Homo sapiens: one gene and its partner. The protein of the gene in region 1 purifies or fractionates together with the protein of each later gene. This does not show direct contact. Each region holds a gene or a part of one and is shown on either strand. Other genes may lie near its edges.

What was found.
Region 2: the proteins of CYP3A7 (region 1) and CYSTM1 purify together in Homo sapiens (affinity purification with mass spectrometry, with the first as the bait; one large-scale study listed by BioGRID). This does not show direct contact.

Annotation. Positions count from the first base shown.
Region 1 is NC_000007.14:99,714,697-99,718,196, reverse strand, and holds part of CYP3A7 (cytochrome P450 3A7), read left to right. Parts: intron 1-557; coding exon 558-671; intron 672-931; coding exon 932-1,020; intron 1,021-2,290; coding exon 2,291-2,439; intron 2,440-3,500. Other genes in the region: CYP3A7-CYP3A51P protein, read left to right, coding at 558-671, 932-1,020, 2,291-2,439. UniProt on the Homo sapiens protein: A cytochrome P450 monooxygenase involved in the metabolism of steroid hormones and vitamins during embryogenesis.
Region 2 is NC_000005.10:140,178,188-140,181,687, forward strand, and holds part of CYSTM1 (cysteine-rich and transmembrane domain-containing protein 1), read left to right. Parts: intron 1-3,500.

The sequences.
Region 1 (3,500 bases):
TGCTGTACTCATTAACTCATCATTTAACATTAGGTATAACTCCTAATGCTATCCTTCCCCCCTCTCCCCACCCCACAACAGGCCCCAGTGTGTGATGTTCCCCTTCCTGTGTCCATGTGTTCTCATTGTATATTTTTTTAAATCTACCACATCAAGGCACCTCTTTTTCATGTTGCCCATGGTTTAGGTGAACATAAAGACAGAGCTCGTCTGAGGCAACATACAGTCCAACAAAGCCACCTGCCTCTCTGTCTCCACTCTCTCTCTACACTGCACGCGTGCTAGGTGTTGATCCTGTCTATTCCAGTGGAAGAACAGGTTCCGTACCATGTGGAGAATTTGCATGTAAAAGGAGACTGGGATATACAGGCTGGAGACCACATCAGGTGGCTGGGCATGTGGGATAAATCCTATTGAGCATCTGTCATAGGGCCTGTCACTTAGTAGACAGTCACTAAATATTTGTTAAATACATGATGCCTGTTTAACACATTTTCTACAACCATGGAGACCTCCACAACTGATGTAGGACAAAATCTTTCTGCTTTGAACTCTAGCCTTTCGGGCCAGTGGGATTTATGAAAAATGCCATCTCTATAGCTGAGGATGAAGAATGGAAGAGAATACGATCATTGCTGTCTCCAACATTCACCAGCGGAAAACTCAAGGAGGTATGAAAATAACTTGGGTTTTAATTAGAAACTTAAAGAATGAATCAGGTGGGGACAGGTAGAAAGTAAGATCAGAGTTCCTTTCCGAGGAGTAGTCTGCTGAATTTGAGCTTCCTAAAAATAGTCTTTTTATGTACAGAAAACACATCATAAAATTCATTATACAATGTCACTTATTGTTCCATGCCAGGCAAAGTCATGTCCTTCTGGGACTTATGTCTGCACATTTAACTATGGGTGGTGTTGTGTTTTGTGCTTAGATGGTCCCTATCATTGCCCAGTATGGAGATGTGTTGGTGAGAAATCTGAGGCGGGAAGCAGAGACAGGCAAGCCTGTCACCTTGAAACAGTAAGTAGGAGCACAGCCATGGGGTTCTGAGCTGTCATGAGCCCCTCCAGCTGCCTGCTATGGAGCTGATACTCCCGCTGTTGGGTTATTCCAGTGACCAGACAAAAGGAGGGCTGTGGTAATGCAACTTCAATGGGTCTCCCAAGATGGGGCAGCTCCGATGAGGAGGTGGGGCAGCTGGAGGAAAAGGATCTTCTCCCCTGTGCACAGAGGTCAGGGTTTACATATCTGTTAAATTGTCACCTTGGATATTCTGGAGGACTAAATACATCCTTTAGGGGGAAAAGTGTGATTGTATCAAAGTTTTAAGCATGGAGTGTATGGGATGGTGGAAGGGGAAGGCACTTGGTATCTGTTGGTTGGCAGTGAGTAGGGTGGGAAAGTTATAATGGAGAACTTAGAATAACTTTGATCATTTCATGTTTTTTTTCTGAGGGTATCAGTAGAATACTAAATATTAAACATTCCCACCATTTCTTTTTCCTCCAGTCTCAAAGAGAGAGGGTGGTAAAAACGCTATAGGTGGGGCAAGCCTATTATTTGCTGTCTACACTTATGCAGGAACAACAGGTGTAATCTGAGCCTGTCCTGGGCAGACAGGGGATATGTGGTCACTCACTATAGAAGTTTCCAAATCAAATTTTGAGAGTTTTTTTTAACCAGGACATCATTTGTCATTATATTTTACAAAAATAATTCTGCCATCAGGGCAACCTCAGCTCACCACAGCTGGGGATAGTGGAATTTTCCAAAGCTTGAGCAGGGAGTATAGAGAATAAGGATGATATTTCTAGGAGCTCAGGACATGGTACTGTTGCTTTGTAAAGTGCTGAAGAGGAATCGGCTCTGGGCATAGAGTCTGTAGTCAGGCAATGTCACCTGTCTTGAGCCCCTTAGAAAGAGTGAATTTTTCTACTCTTGTTCTGCTGAAGCACAGTGCTTACCCATCTTGTATCATCCACAATTAACACATGCTACTGCAGTTGTCTGATAGTGGATCTCTGTCTTTCTATGACTAGGCTCCTTGACCTCAGAGGTAAGTCTAACTCAGTTGAGTGTCTCCATCACCCCCAGCGGAGAGCCAGCTGTGTCACTGACACCTGATAATCACCTTCTGAGGGAGTGTGATGGGAGATGCTCCAGTAAATAGTTCTGAAAGTCTGTGGCTGTTTGTCTGTCTTGACTGGACATGTGGATTTCCTGCTGCACGCATAGAGGAAGGATGGTAAAGAGGTGCTGATTTTAATTTTCCACATCTTTCTCCACTCAGCGTCTTTGGGGCCTACAGCATGGATGTGATCACTAGCACATCATTTGGAGTGAGCATCGACTCTCTCAACAATCCACAAGACCCCTTTGTGGAAAACACCAAGAAGCTTTTAAGATTTAATCCATTAGATCCATTCGTTCTCTCAATAAGTATGTGGACTACTATTTCCTTTTCTCTCCCTCTCTCTTAAAAATAACTGCTTTATTGAGATGTAAATCACCATGTAATTCATCCACTTAAAATGTACAGTTTAATGGTTTGTAGTACATTTGAAGATATGTACGACCATCACCATTGTAAACTTTAAAACACTTCTGTCATTCTAGAAACCTCATACATGTTTAGCTATCAACCCCCTGCCAGAAATCCTGTTGTCGTATATAACCACTAGTCAACTTTCTGCATCTATAGATTTGCCTATTCTGGACACTTCATAGAAATGATATTAATTTTTCAGGGTTTTTTTAATTCTCTAGTTCATGAATTTGTACTTTAGTCTGTATTATTTTCTTTCTTCTGCTGGCTTCAGGCTTAGTTTGCCCTTCTCCGTTTACTGTGTTGTGGCATGAATGTAGATTATTGATTTGTGGGTTTTTTTCCTCTAAATTTAGACATTACAACTATAAATTTCCCTCTGGGCACTTGTTTGCTAAATAACATGACATTCTGGCCTATCACATCTTAATTTTTGCTCAGCTCAAAACAGTTTCTATTTGCCCTTTTAATTTCTACTTCAACTTATTGGTTGCTTAAAAGTTTATTGTTTAACTTCCACGTATGTGTGAGTTTCCCAATTTTCGTTACCTTATTGATTTTAGCTTTATCCTATGATAGGTGACAGAGATACACTGTGTTATTTCTATCTGATTTCTTGAAGAGCATGATTAATTTAAGCAGCAAATTATGATTTGGGTTATCCTAAGAGACCCTAGCCCAATACATAAAGGCAAAGAGATTAGGGCATTGAATTTTGTTCCTTTCATCATTCAAAAGATGCAGAAGGGGCTGCTGATCTCACTGCTGTAGTGGTGGTCCCTATGCACAGACCTTCCCTTGCTCAGCCACTGGCCTGGAAGAGGGGCAAAAGTCATAGAAGGAATGGCTTCCAGTTGAGAACACTGATGTATTTCACTCTTCTGATTGGTAGAGAAAATTAGAATTGCTCCAGGTAAATTTTGTATGTTCACAATGGTTTCGTTTTCTGTTGGTT
Region 2 (3,500 bases), on another chromosome or scaffold:
CACATTTGTCAACTAAGGCCTTGAGCAGGGCACTCCTTTCTTGGCATGGAAACTTTCTTTGACCTTGAATGCGGGTCAGTACCTCCTCACAGAGGTACCAAGGAGAATTAATGAGAGGCTTATATGAAATTTGAGCTCCTCCAAAGCAGAATATTTTAATTCTTGGATGAATGGTATATTTTGAGATGTGATAAAAGTTTTTTAAAAGAGTTTGAAGTTCTAAGTTTTTGGAAAAGCCCTATTCAAGTCCTTCCTTTTTTTTTTTTTTTTTTTTTTTTTCAGAAACAGGGCTTGCTATGTTGCCCAGGTTGGTCTCTAACTCCTGGGTTCAAGTGATCCTCCCACCTCAACCCTGTGAGTAGCTGGGACTACAGGCGACCATGCCTGGCTATCTAAGACCTTTTTGCTGATTTGGTTTTTTTAATTTTTTTGAGACAGGTTCTGGCTCTGTTGCCTGGGCTGGAGTGCAGTGGTGTAATCGCAGCTCACTGCAACCTCCACCTCCTGGGCTCAAGCCATCCTCCCGACTCAGTCTCCTGAGTAGCTGGGACTACAGGCCTGCACCACCACACCTAGCTAATTTTTTGTGTTTTTTGTGGAGATGGAGTTTTGACATGTTGCCCAGGCTCCCCTCAAACTCCTAGGCTCAAGCAATCTGCCTGCCTCAGCCTCCCAAAGTGCTGGGATTACAGGCATGAGCTACCATGCCTGGACTTTTTGCTGGTTTTTTGTTTTGTTTGGCTTTGTTTTTTCCTGGGGTTTTATGGGCTTGGTTACTAATCAGCCTGTAATCAAGATCTGAGGCCCGGTGCGGTAATCCTAGCACTTTGGGAGGCTGAGGCAAGAGGATCGCTTGAGCCCAGGAGTTCAAGACCAGCCTGAGCAACACAGGGAGACCCCATAGCTACAAAAAATTTTTAAAAATTAGCTGGGCATGTGGTATGTGCCTGTAATCCTAGCTACTCAGGAGGCTGAGGTGGGAGGATCGCTGGAGCCCAGGAGTTTGAGGCTGCAATGAACCATGATCACGCCACCGCACTCCAGCCTGGAAGACAGAATGACATCTTGTCGCTTAAAAAAAAAAAAAATGGCTGGGCACGGTGGCCCACACCTGTAATCTCAGCACTTTGGGAGGCCGAGGTGGGTGGATTGCTTGAGGCCAGGAGTTCGAGACCAGCCTGGCCAACATGGCGAAACCCTGTCTCTACTAAAATTACAAAAACTAGCTGAGCATGGTGGCATACGCCTGTAATCCCAGCTAAGTCGGGAGGCTGAGGCACAAGAATTGCTTGAACCCAGGAGGCGGAGGTTGCAATGAGCCAAGATTGTGCCACTGCACTCCAGCCTGGGAGACAGAGGAAGACTCTGTCTGAAAAATAAAAATAAAAATTTGGAAGCCTGAGGCTAACTAAATTCCTGTTTATATTTCATATATAAATAGTAAAGCTCAGATTGTTCACTCTCTTTTTTTTCTTTCTTTTCTTTTCTTTTGAGACAGAGTCTTGCTCTGTCTCCCAGGCCGGAGTGCAATGGCACGATCTCAGCTCACTGCAACCTCTGCCTCCCAGGTTCAAACGATTCTCCTGCCTCAGCCTCCCGAGTAGCTGGGACTACAGGCATGCACTACCATGCCTGGCTAATTTTTTGTATTTTTTAGTAGAGACGGGGTTTCACCACGTTGGCCAGGCTGGTCTCGAACTCCTGACCTCAGGTGATCCACCCGCCTCAGCCTCCCAAAGTGCTGGGATTACAGACGTGAGTCACCGCGCCCAGCCTCACTCTCTTTTTTCTTTTATTCTCTGTTAACCTGGTCTTGGCTTTTTTTGGAGTGCCTGGAGTAAACCAGTAACAGAAGGCTGTGGAACTGGCAGCCTATGACCCAGCATCTTTTTTAACAGCAAGAGTATTATCAGAAAGTGTCACAGCCCTCAAAGGAGTAAGTTATTAAGCTGGTCAGAGACAAAAGGGAGTAAGATTGTTCAGTAAATTGGATGAGGAGTGAAATAGTCATCTTTTAAAATTTCCCTCACCTGTGTCAGGCCACCAGTCCTGTCACTCAATCTAGTAGGATTCGAGTGCTTGCTGATGTGCCCAGGGACACTACGTACTGAACTACAACATCCATCTTTTAGACTTCTGACATTTGTTGGCCAGGTCAAGCTCTCTCTCATGAGGGAAATTCTGACAGAAAAGGCTTTCTGTTATCTGTAGGCTTAGCTGAGTGCCATGTTTCAGGCTTCCAAGCTCCTCACGCTTGGCCAAGGCTACTAATTGGCTTGGCTATAAAATGGGAGTCAGCAATTAAACAGCAGTAGTATAAAGCAAGGGAATTGAACATAAACTGACCCTCCCACTTTACAACCAAAAATGTTCACACCATTTTGGGCACTACACAAAGGAGTCTTCAAAAGGAAGTGAGCTTGGAATGATTCCTTTATAGCTTTTAGGAGATGTATGTGGAATATTATTATTGATTTAGGCCTCCAAGTCAGATCTTGGAAACTGGGTAGGTCCTCACATCTAAAGCAAAGGAGACAAATGGTTTGAATCCAGTCTCTGTGGGCAGCAAGCTTGTGGTATGACTTTGCCAAAACAACAGATGATTTATATTTTTCTAAACTCTTTTCATTAAATGGTTTAAGGGAGAATATTGATGGTCATGGTGGGAGGAGGGTTTGATCTACCTGAATTTACTCACTGAAGAGTAAATGCCTTATTCAGAGGTTCCTATCACTAGTTTCCTGATTATTTGTACTAAAGAATCATTAGCCAGTCTCAAGAGCATTGGCTCAGAAAACATCGTAACTGAAAACTATCTAGGCATGCTTCTTATTCAGAGAAAAGTAGGGATGGGAAACAGTTGAACTACAAAGACATTTGGGGAGAGGAAGACCTGGGAAATGGTGCTAGACTTCTGCCACGTTAAACGTTTAATGCTGCACGCAGTACTTTACTGGTCAGCTTTCAGTTTCAGAATCTTAGGCAGAGTCAGTTGGGGAGAAAGTGTGTGAAGAGGGGGACATTTGTAAGAATGTGGCTATTCTGTGAGCCCTTATTGTTAAGTCGAATACTTAGTGCTTTCCTGCTGCCACTAGCTTCCTGGACACTCCAGACTTTGCCCTTCTGCCTCTTCCCCACTAACAGCCTTTCCTCCCCAACACCACCCTCTCTAAAGCCAATCTAATCTTTGATCGCAGTTTCTGCACCCTTCTGGCTCTGCTAACTTTGTTGAACTAATTTTTGGTGGCCTTTAATGTCTGGTGGTGGCTGTGTGAGAAACTAATGAGGGATAATTGTATTTACTTACTGATTATTATTTTGCTTTAGGGACAATCTGCCAGACTGGAGTGCATGGCATGATCATAGCTCAGTGCAGGCTCAAACTCCTGGGCTCAAAAGATCTTCCCACCTCAGTCTCCTGAGTAGCTAGGACTACAGGCACATATCACTGTGCCTGGTTAATTTTTTATTTATATTTCATAGAGATGGGGGTCTCACTA